Regions from separate parts of the Homo sapiens genome. Here region 2 is reported to be linked to region 1. Evidence: microRNA targets listed by miRTarBase, many of them from high-throughput screens and not tested one by one. Region 1 holds a microRNA gene; the other region holds the end of a gene's coding sequence.
What was found. The annotated mature microRNA hsa-miR-7-5p reads UGGAAGACUAGUGAUUUUGUUGUU and lies in region 1 at 914-937, shown strand. An mRNA with a match to its seed (bases 2 to 7 or 8) in the 3' UTR can be bound and repressed. Matches are read on the target gene's strand: a 7mer-m8 pairs with bases 2 to 8, a 7mer-A1 pairs with bases 2 to 7 and ends in A, and an 8mer does both.

Region 2: the mRNA of TMEM69 is a reported target of hsa-miR-7-5p. Seed matches in the 3' UTR shown: 7mer-m8 at 644-650.

The regions. Positions count from the first base shown.
Region 1 is chr19:4,769,787-4,772,988 of GRCh38, forward strand. It overlaps MIR7-3 (microRNA 7-3), which reads left to right and starts at 884; the gene lies at 884-993. It overlaps MIR7-3HG (MIR7-3 host gene), which reads left to right. Exons shown (of 3, transcript NR_027148.1): 3 at 2,378-2,770. RefSeq lists a silencer at 1-45.
Region 2 is chr1:45,693,439-45,696,532 of GRCh38, forward strand. It overlaps TMEM69 (transmembrane protein 69), which reads left to right. Exons shown (of 3, transcript NM_016486.4): 3 at 1-998. The coding sequence ends at 467. It also overlaps a transcript of IPP not described here. Among named protein-coding and RNA genes, the nearest start is that of TMEM69, 6.8 kb to the left of the region's middle.

The DNA.
Region 1 (3,202 bases):
TGCAGGGGGAGGACGAGAGAGGGTGGTCTGAGGTGCCTGGCATTTCTGGAGACCTGCACCTCATGTAATGGATTTTTAAACAAAGTATTTTCCAGATAAGCACACACAGAAGTCTGCAATTTTCTTTTTTTTTCGAGACGGAGTCTTGCTCTGTCGCCCAGGCTGGAGTGCAGTGGCACGATCTCGGCTCACTGCAACCTCTGCCTCCTGGGTTCAAGGGATTCTCCTGCCTCAGCCTCCCGAGTATCTGGGATTACAGGCACATGCCACCACTCCCGGCTAATTTTTGTATTCTTAGTAGAGACGGGGTTTCACCATGTTGGCCAGGCTGGTCTCAAACTCTTGACCTCTTCATCCGTCCACCTCAGCCTCCCAAAGTGCTAGGATTACAGGCGTGAGTCACTGCGCCTGGCCCAAGTCCGGAATTTTCAACAGGTAAGATACCTCACTGGGGTAACAGCTGCCTGCTAAGATGACATTATGGTGTCTCTTCCAGACTTCGGTGAGAAACCTTGTGCCAAGCATTTTACATACATCATATCATGCCATCTTCAACCCTAGGACATGGGTGTTACTGTGCCCATGTGACATTTGGGGAACCCAAGGCCCTGAGAAAGGCAGAAAAATAACCCACGCAGGGACTCTCAGCCCACAAGTGAAGCTGTAAGTCAACCCCACCAGTCCAACTCCAAATCCCATGTCTCTGACGTGCCTGGGTGGGAGGTGGGCCCTTGGAGATCAGACCCTGCTTCTCTCCAGGAGAACCGGGAATGGAAAACAGGGAGGCAGCACAGAGGCAGGAAACTCAGGTGTCATAGCTTGGCTCAGGTGAGAAGGAGGAGCTGGGCAGGGGTCTCAGACATGGGGCAGAGGGTGGTGAAGAAGATTAGAGTGGCTGTGGTCTAGTGCTGTGTGGAAGACTAGTGATTTTGTTGTTCTGATGTACTACGACAACAAGTCACAGCCGGCCTCATAGCGCAGACTCCCTTCGACCTTCGCCTTCAATGGGCTGGCCAGTGGGGGAGAACCGGGGAGGTCGGGGAAGAATCGCTTCCACTCGGAGTGGGGGGGCTGGCTCACTCCAGGCGATACAGGCACAGGCAAAGGAGGGAAGCAAACAAGGACATACATCCTGTGCTCATACAGCCATGCACCATGTATGGGGTTTGTCACATCACTCGTACGCCCCCACAAGCCTGGAGATAGAACATACCTGACTCTAAACCCAAGACCTCTAACCACCTTATGGCGCTTTCCTGGGAGACCCAATGAGGGAATGACATTTAAAGCCCTCCCTAGACCAGAGTTCTCAGGGTACTTTTCTATTAAAAAAAAAATTATTATTTTTTTGGCCGGGTGGCTCACGCCTGTCATCCCAGCACTTTGGGAGGCCAAGGCAGGTGGACCACTTGAGGCCAGGAGTTCAAGACCAGCCTGGACAACATGGTGAAACTCCATTTCTCCTAAAAATACAAAAATTAGCTGGGCGTTGTGGCACACACCTGTAGTCCCAGCTACTCGGGAGGCTGAGGCATGGGAATCCCTTGAACCCAGGAGGCAGAGGCTGCATGACCCAAGATTGCACCACTGCACTCCAGCCTGGGCAACAGAGAGAGATTCTGTCTCAAAAAACATTTTTTTTTTCTTTTTTGTAAAGACATGGTCTCCTGCCTCAGCCTCTCAAAGTGCCAAGATTACAGGTGTGAGCCACCGAACCCAGCCTAAGGATACTTTTCAATAAAAGTTCCAGAAGTGGGCTGGGTGTGGGAGCTCATACCTGTAATCCTAACATTTTGGGAGGATGAGATGGGAGGATTGCTTGAGTACAGGAGTTTGAGACCAGCCTGGGCAATATAGTGAGACCCCGTGAGTTGACACATGCCTGTAGTCCCAACTACTTAGGAGGTGGGAGGAACACTTGAGCCTGGGAGATCAAGGCTGCAGTGAGCCATGACTGCACCACTGCACTCCAGACTGGGCAACAGAACAACACCCTGTTTCAAAAAAAAAGTTTCAGAAAAGATTCCTTTCCTGTCTGCTACCCATCAGTGTCATGGGCCAATCATAGGACAAGTGTGAACTTGTGCCCAGTGGTGACTTATGACATCATAAAGGCTCACCACCTTTGCCAGACATGGTGGCTCACACTTGTAATCCCAGCACTTTGGGAGGCCAAGGTGGGAGGATAGCTTGAGCTCAGGAGTTCGAGACCAGCCTGGGCAACATAGCAAGACCTCATCTCAGTAAAAAATAATAAATAAATAAATAAATATATAAGACTCACTCCCAATTCTCTGCAACACCCTAATCAAGTGAAAAACTGCACATGGTTACCTGTTCTCCAGCCTCAGGGCTTTTGCCTCTGCTGTTCCTGCAGCTTGGAATGCACTCCCTCCACCTCCAACCAGAGCTCCCCACAACTGACCCTGCCTTCTTCTGCAAGCTCCATTTCATCAAGGGAAACGATCCTTATTGCCTCACCATTTCCCACGTGAAGTCTGTATTGACATTCTCATAGACCTGGGATATTGTGTCTGCAGCACATAGTCCAATTATTTTCATGTTATCTACTGACAGGTCTATTTGTCTCCCTGTTACACTGTGAGCTCCGTGAGGGCAGAAACAATGTTAGTATTTTCACTGCTGTGTCCCCAGCGCCTGGTCCGGGGCCCGGCACACAGCAGGCATATAATAAGCATGTGTTGAATCAATAAAGGCATCAAAGAATAAACCAATACATCAATCAATAAATGAATGAATGGCCTCAGCACACACAGGAAGATCCTTCTTCTAGGTCTCCCCCAGAGAGATACTGGAGGGCAATGGTTGCTGGAGGTGTTTATTGGGGAAGCATAATTGAATTTGTGGACACTTAAGGGCCGGCCAGCCAACTCACAGCCCCAAGAGAGAGAGCCAGGCTCATTTAATTAGCAATTACAAGGCACTGATTCCTCATTAGCTCTGGCAACCCTCGTCTCCCTCCTCAGCCCCAGACAAATGAAATCTTTCTCTCTCTCCCAGGAGTACTGCCTCAGTGGGTCCATTAACAAGCAGAGAAAATGAGATTAGAAGACACCTAAATGCCAGAGGCACTTTATGAATGGGCTGAGCAGAGGGAGGTTCAATGTCTGGGTTAGGTCTAATTGTGGGAGGTTTCCTGGTCTATTTAGAATTGCCCCCTGGGAATGCAAGGTCTTTCAGA
Region 2 (3,094 bases), not on the chromosome of region 1:
GCCCAAAGCCAGCATTATGTGTAACTCTGGCAGGACTAATCCCCTTCGTTGCTCCACCACTGGTCATGCTGATGACAAAAACTTATATTCCCATATTAGCTTTTACTCAGATGGCTTATGGAGCCAGTTTCCTATCTTTCTTGGGTGGGATCAGATGGGGTTTTGCTCTACCAGAAGGTAGTCCAGCCAAACCAGACTACCTTAATTTAGCTAGCAGTGCAGCTCCTCTTTTCTTTTCATGGTTTGCCTTCCTTATTTCTGAAAGACTTAGTGAAGCCATAGTCACAGTAATAATGGGTATGGGAGTAGCATTCCACCTTGAACTTTTTCTCTTACCACATTATCCCAACTGGTTTAAAGCCCTGAGGATAGTAGTCACTTTATTGGCCACTTTTTCATTTATAATCACTTTAGTAGTTAAAAGTAGTTTTCCAGAAAAAGGACATAAGAGACCTGGTCAAGTATAAAAAATATAAAAGTCTGGGAAGTGAGGAGCACCTCTGCCCAGCTGCTGCCCCGTCTGGGAAGTGAGGAGCGCCTCTGCCTGGCCGCCTGACCATCTGGGAAGTGTGACAAGCGCCTCTGCCCGGCCGCTGTGCAACCTTCCACGTGTGAAGTGACAGCCTTGTGTGTGATCTTTTCTGTCTTCCCCAAGTTTGCATTTTCGACATTAAAGTTTACTTTTTAGTTAAAAGTTTTAAAAATATATATATATAAATACACTGTAGATAACATTTGTATGCCAGCTACACCTTTTTCTACTTCTGTTTGGCTTTTTTTCCCCACACCAATGGTAATTTATCTTCACAGATTGTTCTTCATTTCTAGAAATTGTTACTTCATGGTAATTACTTGAGCAAAAGCTTGAAAATCCCTGACAAGTACTTTTCATCTCATAGTATATTAGTTTTCACTCAGTCATTTTATGAATAATATAGTTATCCACTTAAACATTTCAATATTTTAACCATCTTGAAAATTAAAGATTAAAAATCCCCTTTGTTAGAGTCTTGTGATCATTGAAAAGAATGCACATATTCTCCCACTTCAAGCGGAAAACCTCGTATCTGTGAGTATCTGAAAAGAAAAGGTAGTTCCATTGAGTTTTCACAGGAGTTACCACTGGGAAAGGCATGTCCAAACTTATTTCACATGGTATAACCCAATTATATGAGCTAAAAGGATCTATGGCTCTAAAGTCAGTAGGGAGCAGTGTCATGAGGGAAAGCCACATTCAAAGGTAAGTTGGACATGTTTTCCAGTTTTTATTAGGATATTTGGCATGGTACAGATAACAACTTGTCCCTTACCACCAAACACATAATAGCTGGTCAAAATGATTATTTTCAAAGGAAACTATTTAAAATAAAGCCACTAGTACATATAAATTAGGAAAGAAAAGTCAAGCTGGAGCCATCTTGATATTCTAATGAGCAGGCCTATCTAGTTCTACATCTTTTTTTTTGAGATGGAGTTTCATTCTGTCGCCTAGGCTGGAGTGCAGTGGCACGATCTTGGCTCACCGCAACCTCCACCTCCCGAGTTCAAGCGATTCTCCTGCCTCAGCATCTCTAGAGTAGCTGGGATTATAGGCACGTGCCACCATGCCCAACTAATTTTTTGGTGTGTATTTTTAGTAGAGGTGGCATTTCACCATGTTGGACAGGCTGGTCTAGTTCTACATCTTTTAAATCACAGAGAAGCTTTTAGCTTTGGTGTGTTTTTGTTTTTGTTTTGTTTTGTTTAAACGCAGGGTCTCACTCTTGCTCAGGCCAGAGTGTAGTGGTGTGGTCATGGCTCACTGCAGCCTCGACCTCCTGGGCTCAAGCAATTCTCCCACCTCAGCCTCCTGAGTAGCTGGGACTACAGTTGTGCACCACTATGCCAAGCTAATTTTTTAATTTTTTGTAGAGACAGGGTCTCCCTATGTTGCCCAGGCTGGTCTTGAACTGAGCTCAAGCAATCCTCCTGCCTAGGCTCCCAAAGTGTTAGGATTGCAGGCGTGAGCCACTGCACCCAGTGCAGAAGCTTTCTTAAAACAGCAAAAGCAACACCTTAGATTTTCACTTGAAAACGTAGTCTCTAATCACTCTACTTAAGGTGGAGAAAAAAAGAATTAACAGAAAACCTAGTTTTCTGAAATTCCTAGTCTCACCAAAAAGGAAAAACATTAAAAATGGTCTAAGGATTAAAAATGGTCTAAGGATATAGATCAGGATATAGTATAACCTGGAATTTTTTTTTTTTTTAGATGGAGTTTCACTCTTGTTGCCCAGGCTGGAGTGCAATGGCGCTATCTCGGCTCACCGCAACCTCCGCCTCCCGTGTTGAAGCGATTCTCCTGCCTCAGCCTCCCGAGTACCTGGGATTACAGGCATGCGCCACCATGCCCAGCTAATTTTGTATTTTTAGTAGAGACAGGGTTTCTCCATGTTGGTCAGGCTGGTCTCAAACTCCCAACTTCAGGTGACCCACCCACCTTGGCCTCCCAAAATTCTGGGATTACAGACATGAGCCACCGTGCCCGGCCTGTATATTTTTTAGAGATGATGTTTCCACTCAGTCTCAATCTGATTCTACTCAGATTGTTTTGATAAGGAAACTCACTTCTTTGTTATTAAATTGCATGAATGCTATACAAATTTAAGACTTTTCCATAATCTGAATTAAATGAATTATTTTCCAGAATAGAGGCAAATCATATTTTTAGGCTAATTGCCTAATTTTACTTAAAAATGCTATTTTTCCAGGTGAATTACAGTGTATGCTTCTTTAAGAAAACTGATTTTTAAGTACATTTGATTAAGTACATTGGCAGGATACTTAGAAGCATATCGGATTGTTAAACATTTTGGAGGTAGATCACTTTAATCATTTCTCAAAAAACAGAATTAAATGTAAAATGAAATGTGCAAGTCCTTAAAGTTAAAACAAAACCAACTAAAAAACTTGTGCAATCCTACTACAGTTTGGTAACCCAGAATGCCACTGATAAAGTAATACAAAGAAACAAAAAAACTAGATACTTTATTAGTACATTCTTTTAAAAACAATCTTGTTAGCCTGGTGAGGTGGCTCATGCCTGTAATCCCAG